Homo sapiens: one gene and its partners. The protein of the gene in region 5 purifies or fractionates together with the protein of the main gene of each other region. This does not show direct contact. Each region holds a gene or a part of one and is shown on either strand. Other genes may lie near its edges.

Region 1 (3,521 bases), on a different chromosome or scaffold from region 5:
GCTTGCAAGCCATCCAACCGCAGAAGGCAAGATCCAGGGAGATAAACACATTCACTTGAAGAGGTCATCCTGAGCAGCTTCCAAAAACCAGAAACTACATAAGCTCATTATAAGAAATAATTTTAGTATGAGATACCAGGGGGAGAAAAAAAAGAACGTGTTGCCTCTAAAAAGAGAATGTTACTATTTAATGTAAATCTGCTATTTGCAGGGGTGTGGGGGTAGGCTTTTGAAAGATTATAAAGGTTTTGCCCAGCTGGAAGCCTATAGTTTCACAACATACTACTAGTTTGCAACCCCAAGATCAATGCCCACCTTTTAAAGTTCATTTTAAAGACTGTCTGTCTATATGCATGCTATACTTCAATAAAAACATTGAAGAAGAAAAAAAATATAGATACAGGCTCCTTCCTTTTTCCCAAACAGCATCAGTGGGAAGGATAGTGAGTAGAGTAGCCGCGCCTGCAAAGCTTCTAACCACTGTCTCCTCACAGGCTCAAGAGTCACCAATAATGTGGCATCCATGCTCCCTCACTGAGTATCTCTTAGTAGGTTGACTCTAGGACCACTGTGAAAATTAAAAAGCATTTCATTTTAAAATTTAGGTTCTCAATGAGTGACCCTGAAAATAGAATTGGCCCATCACGCTGGTGTTGGAAGACTGTGTTGACACAGGAATGAGGTAGTCAATTTGACTGCCCAACTCTTTCTTTGTGATAAGAAAGGATAATACAGATTTATTTTATTCACGCCCTAAATGTGGGGAAAACGCTATGTAACTTGATCTAATTAAAAAAGAACTTTTAAGTATTCACTTAAGATTATTCTAAAAATTACCCTAAAATATGTAAGCTCAGTTAATAATGGGTTAGCCAAAAAGGATTTCTGTAGAAGAGGTTAACCAATCATATTCAAGACATCTTACTGTTTTACAAATCCGAATGCGTGTAATTCCAAGAGAACTCAATAGAGCTAGTTTTTGTATTCCTGGGACTAAAAAATTATCTAAAACTCCTTGACTCTGGGATGTCAAGTTTCTTCTGGCCTCTTAGGGCTGCCAAGATCCCTGTTTTCCGTATAAATTGAAGCCCAAAACTCCTTGGTAAACCATTCTGGAAGGGACTGATACAGGCTTGGAATAATGTATATTAGCATGGCTGCCACAAGACAGAAAGGAAGATGCAAAAAAGCTCAGGCTGTGAAGGGATGAAATTGCAATACAACTAGAGGCTATTTACTGGTTTTTACCTTTTGATTCTGGAGCTTACAAACTGGTCTACCTATTTGTGTGTGGTGCAGACTTCCAAGCTCCCAGTGGTGCCCACCTCTTGGTATTTATGCCCTTGCGCGGTTCTCTCTCCTGGAGTGTGGGCTGGACCACACTTCGAATGAGCAGAATACTACAACATTGATGGGATGCCACTTCCCAGATTAGATAGTAAGAAACAGTGACTTCCGTCCTGCTTCCTCCTTGCCCTCTTGTTTGCTCATTCTGGGGGAGCCAACTGCCAAGCTGTGACCCGCTCTGTGGAGAGGAACCATGACAGACCTCTGGCCACAGCCAGCAAGGAGGAGCTTGGGCCCTCCGTCCAACAGTCCGTGAAGAACTGAATCCCACCATCAACTGCCTGTGTGAACGTGGAAGCAGGTCCACCTTCAGTTGAACCTTAAGATGACATCAGCCTTGGCCAACACCTTGACTGCAGTCCTGTGTCCTGTGAGGGCCATGGGACCCCGCTAAGCTGTACTCATGTCCCTGACCACAGAAACTGTGAGATAAGAGTATACGTTCTTTTAAGCCCCTGGGTTTTGAGGTCATCTGTTACTCAGAAATAGGTAATTAATACAGTAAGCAGAACTCTAAAGCAGGGTTGGCTTTTTTTGCAAAGGGCCAGATAGCAAATATTTTCAGCTCTGTGGGCCATATTGTTTTGGTCACAATTACTTAACTGTGCCATAGAAGCATGAAAGCTGAGGATATACCAACAAATGAGCATGGTTCTATTCCAATAAAACTTTATTTATAAAACCAGGTGGTGATTTGGCCCGCTAACTGTAGTCTGCCAACCCCTGCTCTAAAGTAAAGAAATCCTAATTTGGAGTTAAAAGGCAGATGATCTCCATTTTACTCCTGTGCTCAAAATTATTTTAACAATAAAACAAAAGCTAAATCTATCACAATAACACAATCTCAGGCAGCTGAAAAGAAAAGCAGATGTCCACAGAATTTCTGATTTTGGTAAACAATCTAAGAAATACAAATATATCTTTTATGACAGATACCTCTAATTGCATTTTTATGGAAAAGTTGAAGTCCAACACTGGAGATAAATCTGAGCCAGAGGAACCTACTGAATTAGTTGTTTACCACAACTATAATCTTAATAGCTCCTTAAGCACGCACTGGCTTTTCCCTCACACATCACGGATCTCCGGCAGTGGGAGATGATTACCTTTGCTTTTTGGCAATGGCGATGGAGGCTGCTCTGTAAACACTTCTAGGGCTGGGGAGTCATGGTGGTCGAAGTCTTTGTCCATGGCTTCTATGAGACTGGTGATGTCCGAGTCCTCGGAACTGTGCCTCGCGCTGCTGGCACGTTCTGGGTGGGAAGGGTGTGCGAGGGGGGCGGGAGACAGCCTTTCAGGCTGCGGCTCCTGGGGCTGAGGCACTGGCGGTGGCAGAGGAGGCTGAGGGTGCTGCTCCAGCGGGCTGTGGGCATGGTGCTGGCTGCCGTGCTGGCTCTGCTTTGCCCCTTTGGACTTTCTGCCCGCTGTATGACCTTGAGTCACTGTGTTCGAATCTAAGACAAGGGGGCTTGTTTTGTTAGCAGACTGTGAAGAAGCTGCTTGAGCAGAAGTCCTACTAGAGGTACTTGAACTGTTTTTGGCTCTGACGTTTTCCACGTCAGCTGAGTTTCTATTGCTGTGACTGCTGTGTGGGTGGACCGATGGGCCACACTGCTTATGACTCCCGGCACTGGGTCGGGATGATGAACCGCCTGCTCCACAGAACCCCCTACTGTGACCGGGGTCACAGCTGAGTGTGTTCAAGCTGAAAAAGGGACCAACTGCAGATCAGTAAATAGCAACCTACAAAATCTAATATTAAAAAAAAACTTCAACTTCATCAGTACAGCCACCATAAATATAAACTACACTAGGGAAAAAATAGCAAGAAATAGGGAAATTTCTACAACTCTCTAACATCTGTTCTATCTGAACATTTATAATTTACCATCAGTGATCTAACTAAAAGTATTTTAACCCTTACCAATATAATAAAAACACAGTATCCAGCATGAGCTCTAAGTCACTCAGAGTTCCATACAGGGTGTTATTAAGTAATCAGAATTAAGATTTTTTTTCTCCTGAGCAAAGATGAAAAGAAACTTATTTTTTATTGTAATTTTATCAGCCAAATCTATGTACACTAGGGAATTTATTGCCAGCATGTGAACATACTTTCCTTCAGATGAAATACCAACGATTCTCCTGAGATCAAATGGCCTTCCCACATCGAA
Region 2 (3,521 bases), on a different chromosome or scaffold from region 5:
AAAGGCACTAATAGAACGGTATGCCAGGATAAAAACACTTCACCATAAAAGAGGGTTGTGACTCATCAGACAATATTTACATGAGAATTTCAGGTTTTATATTTTTCTGCTTGGTCACATCTATTTAAAATGCATTAATTTAGGAGTAATTTGACCTTTGATTGTATGCTGTAAATAGATTATGAGAATTTTTTACCTTGGTAAGGGAGGATTTTTTCCCCCACTCATTAATTTGAATTAATAGATTCATCAAATCTTTGAACAGGTCTTAAAGTAATCTAGGTCCAAACCCTAATTTTAACAATGAGGAAAGTTGAACTCAGAGAAGTTAAATAGCTTGATAGTTCCTCTATAAAAGAGACTGGTAGGTAGTCTACTGTTCCATCTGCTAGAGAAAGTGCCCTCTAACAGGTAATATGGGAAGGTAGGCAGTACTGTACAGTATGAGAGTTAAGCCCACAGGTATGGGATTATGATGGCTGCTGTTTCCATTTTTTAAAACCAACTGTGAATGTACATGGCTTGGATTTGAATATCACCTAAAAGTTCTGTGTATTTGGGAAAATTATTTAATCTTCCTGTGCCTCGGTTTCCTCATCTGTAAAATGGGGATGATAGAAATGCCTATCCTGGAGAACTAAATGAGGTTACCTGTGTAAAGCATTTAGTTCAAAGACTATGACAACAGTCAAAACCCCATAAATGTTCATTATTATTTCTACTATATTACATACCACCTTCATGATCAAAGAATTTCTTTCAAAAGTGAAAACATAAGGGATCAAAATCTAGCTGTTGAAATTAGTGAATGCAAAGCTAAGAATGCACATGTGGAGATTAAACTTCTCATGTCATCTAGTCTTAATTAGCGCTTTGTTTAACTGAGGTTACTAGACCACATATAGATAGGCTTCCACAGACACCCCTGTCTATACCACAGCCATTTGTATGCACATCTATTCTTAGTATCCAGTGAAACTGGGTTTTATTCATTTTATTTTTGCAATCTAGAAGTGGTACCAGAGAGAACAACAAATCTGCAACTGTACTCTTGCAGAAAACAGTTTTCTTGTGCCTTAGTGTGCTAAAATGAAAAGTGTAAAATATTTAAATTACCAAAAGTAAGTGATGAAACAGATGCCACCATCATCTACCCCAGGGCATGGGCACAAGGAGATTTTCCTCCTTGGGAAAATCTTAAGCTTGCAGAAGTGGTGGTGACCAAAAATGAGCAGTTACTTATTAATATAAATTTTTTAAAAAAGAGAAGAGTATTTCAAGGGACTCCCAACAACACACTAGGAAATTCACTTTAACGCCTGCCTGTATCAGGAATAATAAAGCAAAACACAGAGAACCTAAAATGTTTTTAAAGAAAGAAAAAAAGATATTGCCCAACATCCCAGTTGTTTGTGGACTGAGTGACAGGTCCAGCTGTCCCAGCTGCCGGCATGGGGAGCATGTTAAATATAGCACGCAGGGGTCATTCACATTCTGTGACCCTCCTTGTTATGACAACCTTTCTTTCCCCAGTGTCCTAAAAGTATGAGGATCTCCTGTTTCAAAGCTGAACAAGGCAATATGGGAGAAAATTTGACAAGAAACCTCACAGTTGTAATTAACCTCTGGTGATTCTATTTTATTTTTTCTTTTCTTGAAGCCTTGAAGATTTTGATATCTTTATCTGGTAGGCCAAGTAGATTTACTCATTCTTCTTGGTAATTATGAGCTACAATGTGATACTTTGGGGTTGTAGTTTTATTTACTTGTGAGATATTTGACTATCTCGATGACTTCTAAACAACATATAAAGTATAACTTTTTTTGGTGTACTTCTAATTTTTTTCTAACAGGCTCCACAATCTCTCATATATGTTTTTTTCAGCTCGATAGCATAGCATCTGAATGGGTTGGACTTCCACCTCTGCCTTCAGCCAGGTGTCTCTTCGGTCTGGGAGAGGTGGATGATAAAATCTATGTAGTTGCAGGCAAAGACCTTCAAACAGAGGCTTCGCTGGATTCAGTATTATGCTATGATCCTGTGTAAGTTGGCATGATATTCCTGTTCCCTAAGCATTCAAGTATATGCGTGCCTACAACATATTCATATTTTCAGAACCTGGAATTTACTGAAGGTATATAAATTCTGTCTCGTTTAATTTTAGGGCTGCAAAATGGAACGAAGTAAAAAAACTCCCTATCAAAGTCTATGGCCATAATGTGATTTCACATAAAGGGATGATATATTGTCTAGGAGGAAAGACAGATGACAAGTAAGTACCCTGAACTCTCATGATTTATGTCTAAATGACTTTTTATTAGAAGGGTTTCTTCCTCTTTTCTTTTCTTTTTTTTTTTTTTTGAGATGGAGCTTCACTCTTGTTGCCCAGGCTGGAGTGCAGTGGTGTGATCTCGGCTCACTGCAACCGCCGCCTCCTGGGTTCAAGCGATTCTCCTGTCTCAGCCTCCTGAGTAGCTGGGATTACAGGCATGCTCCACCACGCCTGGCTAATTTTGTATTTTTAGTAGAGACAGGGTTTCTCCATGTTGGTCAGGCTGGTCTTGAACTCCCGACCTCAGGTGATCTGCCCGCTTCAGCCTCCCAAAGTGCTAGGATTATAGGTGTGAGCCACCACGCCCGGTCTCTTCCTCTTTTCCTTTGGATCTGCACACTAAAATGGGACATGGTTCTCACCTATCATATTGTGGAGGGAAAATCTTAAAATTTCAAGTCGCTGAAGTAAACATGTAGATACTCAGCATACTGCTAGGAATGAGCCTAATACCCCAATCATAAGCATCCTTACAGTCCAGGCAGTATCTAGGAGCATAATCAAGTCCTGTATTTCACTGATTTATAATTGTATTTTACTACATTAAAACCAATGGGTTTTCTTATTCATTTAGCCATAAGTAGATAAAAATTGAAAGGTATCTTTAATGTAGTATTTAAAATATATCTTCTAAGACAACTGTGCATAAAAAATATCATGGATTTGTACTTTACATTCATAAGAGGGACTTTAGATAGGTCAGTTTGAAAGAAAAGCGTGGTGATTGAAAAGAGGGAAGTAAAAAAGACAAAATAAAAACAAAAAATTAAGGCAATTATTTCCTCAGCAGTGTTCTTCCACATATTTACTCCCTGACAGAGGTAATATTCAAAATGGCTTCCAACTGTTCAAAACTGAGCTCCCAGTAGCACCCAGTATCTTGTGAGAAAACCAGGATGAGGTTTCATATATAAACCTAACTTGATTTCCAGTCAATTCTTAAGGAACCTGTAATCAGGAAAGAGATGTTATAACCCAGAGAGAGGAGAAGTGAGCTCCGAATGCTTCAGAGACAGTCAAACCAGTATAACCTGTCTAGTAAAATAAGCATTTTCAGTTTAGATGGTGAGAACTAATATTCTGCCCCTGAAAAATCTGCCTGATTTGGCTTGTCATCATTTGCCCAGGCCATTGAATTAATAGTGATGTCCAACCCTGAAAAGGGAGCCAAAATTTAGAATTGTAAGG
Region 3 (3,521 bases), on a different chromosome or scaffold from region 5:
CCTTAGTTTTCCTTAAATGTTCCTCACTTTCTTTCTCTTAAGATTTCAAGCAAAATACCCCCAAAACAGAAATATCTTTAAATTTTTTACTCAGGAGGTTGAGGCAGGAGGATTGCTTGAGTCCAGGAATTGGAGACTGCCCTATGATCACACCCATGAGTAGCCACTGCACCCCAGCCTGGTCAAAATAGCAAAACCCCATCTTTAAAATATAATGTTACAAAATTGTATCTCTCCGCCATTCAATCTGCTGGAAAACATAATTTCAATCTCCCATTTACATCTGTTTATAAATACTGCCACATCAGTTTCATTCATCATTTCTCATGAAAGCCCCATCTCTGATGTTTATCTTCTTTTATCTATAAGCTATTTAAACTTTTAAAACTGTTTTTCCAAAAAAAATCTCTAATTGTAGCAAACTGTATTTATGGTTACCTATGGCTACCCTTCTTGTTCTTTGAGATACAACAATAATGCCTTTTCCTTTGTGTAAGAAATGGTATTAATAAAATTATTTAGAAATTTGAGGCAGCAAGTTATTGATTATTTCATCATACTTCCTCTAGCATACTCAAAATGATGGCTCTAAATAGCCCATTCAACAGGAAGAGGCATATTGCTTTCTGATTTCCAGATAAAGACTTAAATATGGAAAACATCTAAAATGACTAAAGATATTTTTTAATTTAAAAGGAAAAGGGGACATTGTATATCCAAAATCCAAAACCAAAAAGACAATAAATTTAAAAATACAAGCAGAAACCATGAAAATAAGTCCAGTAAGGCAGGAGAATGGGTTGGGGGAGGCTGGAAGGAAGAGTGCAGAAGAAGGGAATTCCTTTTTTCTGTATATATGAACCATCGTGAGTTTAGATTAATCTCAAAACTATGCATATGCTCAAATTCATATTGATTAGGTAACAAAATCATAAAACTATATTTTATTATTAATAGTTGTACCCTTTGCCATTCCATTTGAGGACTCAGAAGTCTATTAAGTAAACAGGAGACTGGGACAGAATTCAGTCAAGAACTCAGACAGCTCACTGACCTTTTAAGCCCAATGGTCTATCAGGAGAATAGCATATCAAAAGCTTACAGAACTAAACAGAGATTCGAGCAACCATCCACAATGGTCAACAGAGCTTATAGTTTGAACCTAACTAGGTTGATTGCCTATTAAGTAAAAACATTAACATGTTAGCTCAAAAAAGATTATGAAAGGTCAGGCGGACTATGAAATCTTTGAAAAGGAAATGGAAGTGAGATTATTCTGGGAGAATTTGGAGCTAACTAGACTATATCTTGAGTATGTTCTAGAAATTGCCTTACCAAGCCTAACATACCTCCTTTGGGAGGTAAGGTTTAATATTCTTACCCATCTTGTTAGAGCTAGAGATTAATATTTGCCCTAACCTGATACTTTAAGAGGTAAACTTTTTTTTTTTTTTAAAGACCTTCCTAGAGATATCTCTAAATTATTTTCGGCATTTCAGAAACTACATCAAGCAGCATGCTTGATTCAAGCCTATTGGAAGGGTTTTCAGACAAGAAAGAGATTAAAGAAGCTTCCATCTGCTGTGATTGCTTTGCAGAGGAGTTTCAGGTAAAAAAATTTGGTGAGGGGATTGATGATCATAGAATCTTACTAGAGTACAGTTGAATTGAAATTTAGGTGATTTTTTTTTAATTTCCTAGTATGTTTCTTGTTATCTTTTCATTTTTTTTCCATACGTTTCTGGGTACCAACACTCCAGTAACCAGATGCACTTTCAAAGCAAAGGATGTAAGACAGGAATCTGATGTGTCAAATATGCAATCCTATCCACTTAATAAGATATTTGGGGAGGGGCCAAGCCTACAAAGGGAGCCAATGATAGTTATATTATTAAACCCTCTAAACCAACAGTTATCATAATTTCGTGTGTATAATTATAACAATAACATGTATGCGTATAAGAGTTTAAGTCTGTTAACCTGATTTTCCTGAATAAATATGGCATGGATGGATATCTTCATTGAATTATGATATAGTTCGGCATTTATTTCAAGTAGACTGAAAAGGAAATACTGAAGACATAGCCCACTTTCTGCAATGACTTAACCAATCCAGATCCTCCAAGGTCACAGAACAAGAAAAAATAACTTAGCTTCTAGGTAATTTATGGTAAAGAAGATCTGTTTCAGAGGTGACTTTTTCATGCAGCCTAACTTAAAGCCAAGCTTTAGTTTGCTAAAATGAAACTGGCATTTTACAGAAGTTAATTCTTTAAAGAAAACTGAAACTATTCTTTTAATAACTGCAGATGCATTTCTCAGTTATAAAAACATTTAAAAATAGCTCTGGGGTTCAAAATACTATGTAGTCACAGAGTTGAAGACATTGAAATCACTCTAGCTAACTGTGTCTCTTAGTGGGTATCCTATTAATTGATGAACGTTTTCTTCAGGGAAGAATTAAAGATGGATTTTAAATATTATTGGGCATGAATATTGTTGGTAGCAAAGAAAAGAATTAATTTTTAAATATATATCAAATGCCTAGTATATGATATATGTACTAGGCATTTAACAGATTCGAGTTTGTATCTCACTTGAGCAGCTTACTGGTTGAGTGAACTTGGACAATCCCCCACCTCTCTCAGCCTCAAACTTCCAATCTATAAAATGAGAATAATAGTTTATACACTTGTATGATCAAGATAATGTAAAATTTGAGATAATACAAAGTTTTTAGCATATTATCTGGCACTTAAAAAATGATAGAAGGAAAAATGCATATGGCACATTTTCTGTCCTTGAAAATTTACAAATCTAGGTAAACAAATAGATGCATTAAATAGGTAGTACTAATGAGAAGCAAGTATTATCCATCTATTATTACTCAAAGTTTATTGCCTATCTTACAAGCTGTTTTTTTTTTAAAAGCATTTCTGTGGTTAGATAAATTTGGGAAATATTGAGTACTTTTTGAGTCACAGTGTATATTTTTCTACCCAAAGCATCTGAGGTGCTCTTGGTATTGCCTCTGTGGTGAATTCAGATAGAGTAGGTATTACTTATGGATTCCACCTGCTATCATCCTTAGTTACCTGTCATCTTAAATTTAAGGGTACCCTTATACATGGATTCAGAGCATTAATGTTTAGTCCCACAAGAGTTCCCAAATTTGCTCATATACTCTCTCTTTCAATATTAAAATCTCTATTTAAAAGTAGCCCAGGATTACAGATTTTTTTCTACTTAGAAGTGTATCTATGGAATCTAATATTCCATTATTTTAAAATAGAAATTCCATTGCTTTCTTTATGTAACCAGAAGAGTTATAAATACTTCCATTAAAAAGATAAGCTGTGAAGCAAAAATTATTTAAGTCTCACATTTTGTGTTTGTTGCCTTTCCAGTATTTTTGCATTTGAGGTTCCAGAATATACTGAAATGCGGTTCTAACCTGTTGGATTCTATTTAATTTTTTAATTTTCAGTTTTCTCCAGTTCAGCACCTTCGCTCTTCTATTA
Region 4 (3,521 bases), on a different chromosome or scaffold from region 5:
AACAACAAAAAAGGGATGAAGATAATGCTAATGCAAATTAGAAAATGTTATAAATTTTAATCATATTTAAATAAACTTATATGTAAAATAATCAGTTATGAGAAAAGTATGGGACCAAAACATTCAAAAAGAAATAGAAAATCTGAATGGCCCTATGGCCATTAAAAATGTTGGTTTATTAGTTAAAAGTTTTCCTTCCCTCAATACTCACCTGAGTTTGGACAGATGCTAATTCCAGGGTTACATAAGCTTTTTCAAAAAACGGGGGGGAAAAGTAGCAATTCTCTTTTCATTTTCTGAGTCTTATGTACTACAATCTTGTTAAAAAAACTAGCAAGGAGAGTAAGAATGAAACTTAAAAGCTAGTCTCACTTAGGAACCTAGCAAAACAACCCCAAAATCCAGCAATGTATAAAACAGATAACATGACCAAATTTGACTTATTCTAGAAATGCAAGGTTTAATTAATATTAGAAAATTGTCCAAAATATTTACACATTAATGAAATTATGTTACTACACATTATAGGCCTTTGCATTATTGATTTAGTATAGTCTTAGTTAAATCTGAGAATGCCAGGTGGCTGGAGAGCATGTTGAATAACTAAAATTCAGTTTTGAGTGGAATACTGTGGACCACAGTAGATGGCACAATTAATTTGATTAAAGGGAGTCAGATGGTCTCTCAGAGGTGGCAAAATGTGAGTTAGGTCTTGATGAATAATATTTTTATCAGCATGTTTGAGATTTCAAGTGGAAATAATGGGTGCTGAAGTATGGCAGTGGCATTTGGGAATGGTAAGTGATATAATTAGAGCATGGTAAGGTTATCAGGAAGTGGCAGGAGATGAAACTAGAGATTTGTGCCAAATTGTGAAAGGCCTTGACTGCCTTGCTTCTTGCTAAACAGTGGAATTTATCAACCCACTGAGACAAAGTCAGTTAAGATTTTTGAGCCTTCCATATATTTAGCTGCTTATATTTAATGTCTTGTCTTTAAAAATAACACGTATGACTTGTTGTTTGCATGCTTTTGCATATATAACTTATTTGAAGTTAGGTGCTTCTACTGATTGACTTTGACTTTTTGTTCACAAAAATATAGGGATCTTGATTTATGACTGGACCACTTAATGTATTAATTTGCACTGTGTTATATCCTAAACTTTTAAAACTACTCATGACTAATGTCTTTCACCAAACTGTTACCTACGAACTTTCTAAAGAAATGTGTGACAAAGGCGTGATTAGTTTCATTTGCTCTGCCATTTTTAGCTGTATATGTGATAAAACATGTTTTAATACATCTCTTTTTAACTTCGATTTTATTTGGAATTTTTGAATGAGCTGTTTGTTTGTTTTTAAGCAAAGTAATTGGAGTGAACTTTCTTTGATTCCCAGGTTTTCTTTTTTCCCCTTTTTTCTTTTTTTATTGCATTGGTAGATGCAGGGCAAGAAATTTATTACTCTAAATTTGTGACTCAGAATTTTAAAACTAAATTAACTTCATAAATGCGCTCACTTTTTTCTTAATGCATTACGTCTAACCCCCAGTGATACTTTTATTTGATTTTCTTGATTATGTAATTTGTTTGATATTTCTTTTATTTAAGGTGTGACTGCACAGAAAAGTTACAAAACAAATTTGACTTTTTGCGCTCACAGTTGAATGATATTTCGTCATTTAAGAATATCTACAGATATGCCTTTGATTTTGCAAGGGTAGGTGCAATTTTCTTGTTTTGTTGTTTTAATAGCTTTTCATCTTGAGACCACACTTAGGAAAACTTTTTCACTTATATTTTAGGATAAAGATCAGAGAAGCCTTGATATTGATACTGCTAAATCTATGTTAGCTCTTCTGCTTGGGAGGACATGGCCACTGTTTTCAGTATTTTACCAGTACCTGGAGGTACGTATGTTTTTTCGAATTTTGAAAATATTATTTTAAAACTTAATCTGAAAGTTATACTTTTGAGGAACAAGTAGATTTTTAATAGTATGCTTTAAAAAAACTTTAGAGAAAAAATTCTAAAATATGTACATATCAGTTGCTATTTTTAGATAGAAGTTCATGTTTATTAATATATTTTGTACCTAAGATATTTTCAATCCTACCCCCCCAGTCCCCCAAATAAAAGAAACCTCCAAGAAATACATTGTATCACAGACATTTGTCTTGCAGAATTAGTTTCTCGGGGTTTTCATAAGAGAGTTAATGCTAGTACACAAACCTTTAAGCTTCTAAATCTGATTTTCTTCTTTTGTTACACAGGGTCTTAAGCTGAAATGTACATAAGAGAACCAATTTAGTAATAAAACTTTCCTTTTCTACTTAGGCTCAATCTAAAGAAACAGAATAAAGCTATTAATATTTTATGGCCACAAATATGAGAATGGCTATAATAGTATACTTAAATATGCTGGTTACTAAAAAAATGTAAGCTGAAATGATGACGTGTTCTTTTAGAAGGTTTATCATAGCAACTACTATAGGCAGTGATTCTAAGAAGATGCTATTCTTTTTTTCCATTGCTTTGTCTAGTTTTTTTTTTTTAAATCTGTTTTTGTGCCTTTGTAATTCTAGGGTTATTGGTATAGTTCTCACCATATCTTGAATACAGATGCTTTTTCCTTTGGAAATAATTTCTCATAAAGCACATTGCTTATAGCTGCTTCCCTTTTCCCAGAGTAGTAAAAGTTGTGATACAAGACAGTGATATCAGCTGGGCGTGGTGGCACACGCCTGTAATCCCAGCACGTTGGGAGGCCAAGGCAGGCAGATCACTTGAGGCCAGGAGTTCGAGACCAGCCTGGCCAACATGGTGAATCCCCGTCTCTACTAAAAATACACACAAAAAATTAGCTGGGTGTGGTGGTTTGTGCCTGTAGTCCCAGCTACTCGGGAGGCTGAGGCACGAGAATTGCTTGAACCAGGGAGGTGGAGGTTGCAGTAAGCTGAGATTGCACCACTACACTCCAGCCTGGGTGACAGAACGAGACTCTGTCTCAGAAAAAAAAAAAAAGAGACAATGATATGAAAAGGTCTTACATGAATGAGTTTTACGCATGATTCAATCTGTAAGTCCTATAAATTATTTTTGATGGATGGTATCTATTTTCTTCCTATTAGTAGTTTTGGGCAAAAATAAATTTAACTGAATGTAAAAATATTCAGCTCTATGGGGAGCTGAGAAGAACTAAATATTTTCAGACACTTGTTATGTGCAGGTTGTTTGGCATATATTTTTAAAAATCTTTATAATACCATTTTGAATTAAATTCTATCCCCATTTAACAAATGAGGAGGTGGTTTCTATTCTTAAGTAACTTTCCCAAAATCACTCAATTAAGTGGCAAGGGTGGGATTTAAATCGAAGCCTATACTCTTTCACTTGTTTCCAAAGATGCCAAACTCAAAATGTGGCTAAACAGTAAATCTTGAGCAAAGAAATGATTTACTAGGAAGCAGCACAATAGAACATACTGGATGTAGGAAATGTTATATATCTTGATCTCATT
Region 5 (3,105 bases):
GAGCCTCAGAAAAAAAAAAAAAAAAAGAAAGAAAGCAAAAATCTAGCAACCTCAGGAAATGGTAGGCCCTTGATATCATCTAGGATTTTCTCCACATCTAGTCTGTAATAATCTACTTCATACCCAAAGAAGCTAATTTTGCTTCTATTTGTGGATTTATTGTTATGTGGCTGGCCTCATGTTTCCTGAAAGAAACCTGAGCAGAAGGGAAGGGAAGTAGCATGCGAAGTGGTTTATGAGTTATTTCTTTTGAGCTCATTCAATCTTGGTGTGTTGGGTATCATTAGATGCATTTTATTATTGTGGAAACTGAGGCTTTGGTTATTGACTGATTCCTCAACAAGTAGTGGGAGGCTTCTAGCCTATGTCCATCTTGTTCCAAAGTCTGTGCTCTTTTCTCTGCCTCTCTGCGAATGTGGAATCCTTCTCCTTTTCAGTTTAAGCTTCCAGGACACTTACATTTCCCACTCACCCCTCCAGCCACCCAACCCATGTTTAAGAAAAACAACTTGTAAGGTATGTTTTTATTTTACAAAAAAAAAAAGTGACATGCAATAACCCATCTTCTAACAAACTATTAACGCTTGGATTACAGGGTAAAAAGGAAATCCAACCAGCCCTGATGAAAAAAAATTCGATTTCACAAAGCTGAAAAAATCTATTACAAAGTTTCTGTTGTATAAATATAGTCAGTCTTATCTTTAATGTAGTCAGACAAAAAAAAGTTTTGTTGGCACTAAAACAAAAACAAAAGCAAAAACCCTACTGCTTGAATACACCACAATCTTCATTTGTATTCCCAGCCAAATACAGATGATGTCTATAGCATGACAGTTACTGCATGTTCCAGGACTCAAGGTAACCAAATGAGATTTAAACATTTTATCATACTCCCTCTACCAACAACAGCTTGGACAGACCACTTTAGCCCTGGGTCAAGGACTAAAGCCTTTGTTCATAGAAAATTGAACATGTAGGCCAGGCACGGTGGCTTACACCTGTAATCCCAGCACTTTGGGAGGCCGAGGTGGGTGGATCACTTGAGTCCAGGAGTTTGAGACCAGCCTGGCCAACATGGTGAAACCCCATCTCTACTAAAAACACAAAAATTAGCTAGGCGTGGTGGCGCATGCTTGTAATCCCAGCTACTGGGGAGGCTGAAGCAGAAGGATCACTTGAACCCAGGATGGGGAGGCTGCAGTGAGCCAAGATCATGGCACTGCACTCCAGCCTGGGCAACAAAGCTGACTCTGTCTCAAAAAAAAAAAGGAAAAGAAAATTGAACATGTGTTTGCTCTCAAGTGGGCGGACAACTCTGTGAGTTTGCTGAAAACCATTGAATCGTATGTTTTAAAGGTGAATTGTGTAATATGTGAATTATATCTCAATAAAGCTGTTAAAAATATATGACATGCCTAACTTGCTAGGGGAGCAACAGGTGACCCCAGTAGCGTAACTCAGGAGTTCCTGACAGGTCACAGGGCAGACCTGCAGAAGTCAGCACGGTAAGGGGTAGTAAAAAGTAGCTCCTTAAAGTATTATGGCTAAAATCAGTGGAGTCAGAATAAAGAAGTCAAAGACATATGTAATTTTTCCTACTGTTTCCGGAATAGTCTAAGGGCTGTCTGTGGCCTTTGTCACAAAAGAAAGCTATTCAGTGAGACAGCAGGTGCCCAAGTATTGCTGAGGCTACAGAAGACTTTAGGCTGGAGCTCAGGAGCTGCGTATCTGCATCCACACTGGGGGAAGTTCCAACATGGACACAGGTTCTGAGAGCCTGACTCCTACAAAAGGAGGGGAGAATTTGGATACCCAAAGAAAAACTGGATTTATTAAACCAAAGGGACTCCCTGCCGTCACCAACACTGTTGATGGCCAGGGACCACAGCCTGGCTCTAGTTCTCATTGACTCTTACAAAGCCATTGCCAGGGCAGCAGTGGCTAATCAGATGAGCATTTTGTGGCAGACTAGTCACTTGCAAATGCCATCCCCTTTCTATATCTACCATCTGGTCACCAAATGGTCACTGGAGAAAGGGCACAGGCACAAATCATGGGCAATTGGGGCTTGACCAAGGGAAGGTCACCCTAGCCTGATAGTGATGGAGGCAGAACTGCCAGTAGAAGAAAGAAGAAGGTAATTTAAAGTCTTGCTCTGGTTTTACCCATTCTAGGTACTTAAAAGTTCATTGATAATAGTTTGTGTAAAATTGGGGAAAATGGGCATAGAAGACACCCACTCTACTCACCTTTCAGAAGGGATGTTGCCAGAAATTGGACCAGAAGTCTCTTTAGTTTTTTATCACACAAAGCAATTGAGAATGAAAAAAAGAGAAAGATAGGGGCTTAATAGTGAGAAGTATCCCAGCTTGGTGAACACCTTGTTTATTTTTAAATTTTTTAGAGACAGGGTCTCACTGTGTTGCCCAGGCTGGTCTTGAACTCCTGAGCTCAAGCCACCATTCTGCCTTGGGATTACAGGTGTGAGCCACCATGCTGGGCCCAGTGAAAATCTTGTTAAACTCTCCTAGCCTTCCTTCCTTGAAGACTGGTTTGATTCTGGTGCTGGCGTATGGGCCTGGGATTCAGTTCCTTTTTTGGCCAGCCTAGACGTTTATTCTGTGCCTGAGCAGATGCGTTAAGCTTAGAAGCAGACATCACGGCCACCTCAGGCCCATGCCATTGTGGGCTGTATCCCCTAAAGTGCCCCATTAAAATCTTGGCCTCCTTGTGCTCTTTTCAAATAAGAGACCCCTGTTCCATAATATGGCCCAAACTTCTAGGACGGGGGCACTCAAGGATGGGGAATTTTCCTCACTGACAGGGTTTGCTATGTCTGTGGGTAAACCCAACAGAGGATAAGGCTGGAACATCTGGGTTTGGGGCTTACCTGGTTCTTTTCAGTGTCATAGAGTGATAGTGGAAGGTTTAAAAAAAAGATAGGGAGGATGTATCCACCAGGGCTTTGGGCATTTTCTTGATGAACTTATTCCTTTGGCTTCAGTGAGAATATCTATCATTTACTTAAGAGAAGGCAATGAGCTACGTGGTTTAAAAAACAAATAAAAGGCTGAGTGCAGTGGCTTATGCCTGTAATCCCAGCAG

What was found.
Region 1: the proteins of ELAPOR1 (region 5) and TMEM131 purify together in Homo sapiens (affinity purification with mass spectrometry; one large-scale study listed by BioGRID and IntAct). This does not show direct contact.
Region 2: the proteins of ELAPOR1 (region 5) and KLHL41 purify together in Homo sapiens (affinity purification with mass spectrometry; one large-scale study listed by BioGRID and IntAct). This does not show direct contact.
Region 3: the proteins of ELAPOR1 (region 5) and IQCB1 purify together in Homo sapiens (affinity purification with mass spectrometry; one large-scale study listed by BioGRID and IntAct). This does not show direct contact.
Region 4: the proteins of ELAPOR1 (region 5) and DCUN1D5 purify together in Homo sapiens (affinity purification with mass spectrometry; one large-scale study listed by BioGRID and IntAct). This does not show direct contact.

The regions. Positions count from the first base shown.
Region 1 is NC_000002.12:97,789,933-97,793,453, forward strand, and holds part of TMEM131 (transmembrane protein 131 precursor), read right to left. Parts: coding exon 3,463-3,521; intron 3,053-3,462; coding exon 2,454-3,052; intron 1-2,453.
Region 2 is NC_000002.12:169,512,689-169,516,209, forward strand, and holds part of KLHL41 (kelch-like protein 41), read left to right. Parts: intron 1-1,885; coding exon 1,886-2,043; intron 2,044-2,165; coding exon 2,166-2,273; intron 2,274-3,521. UniProt on the Homo sapiens protein: Involved in skeletal muscle development and differentiation. Regulates proliferation and differentiation of myoblasts and plays a role in myofibril assembly by promoting lateral fusion of adjacent thin fibrils into mature, wide myofibrils.
Region 3 is NC_000003.12:121,793,545-121,797,065, reverse strand, and holds part of IQCB1 (IQ calmodulin-binding motif-containing protein 1), read left to right. Parts: intron 1-1,499; coding exon 1,500-1,609; intron 1,610-3,521. UniProt on the Homo sapiens protein: Involved in ciliogenesis. The function in an early step in cilia formation depends on its association with CEP290/NPHP6.
Region 4 is NC_000011.10:103,064,659-103,068,179, reverse strand, and holds part of DCUN1D5 (DCN1-like protein 5), read left to right. Parts: intron 1-1,612; coding exon 1,613-1,721; intron 1,722-1,806; coding exon 1,807-1,911; intron 1,912-3,521. UniProt on the Homo sapiens protein: Contributes to the neddylation of all cullins by transferring NEDD8 from N-terminally acetylated NEDD8-conjugating E2s enzyme to different cullin C-terminal domain-RBX complexes which is necessary for the activation of cullin-RING E3 ubiquitin ligases (CRLs).
Region 5 is NC_000001.11:109,204,186-109,207,290, reverse strand, and holds the end of ELAPOR1 (endosome/lysosome-associated apoptosis and autophagy regulator 1), read right to left. Parts: 3' UTR 510-3,105; downstream 1-509. UniProt on the Homo sapiens protein: May protect cells from cell death by inducing cytosolic vacuolization and up-regulating the autophagy pathway. May play a role in apoptosis and cell proliferation through its interaction with HSPA5.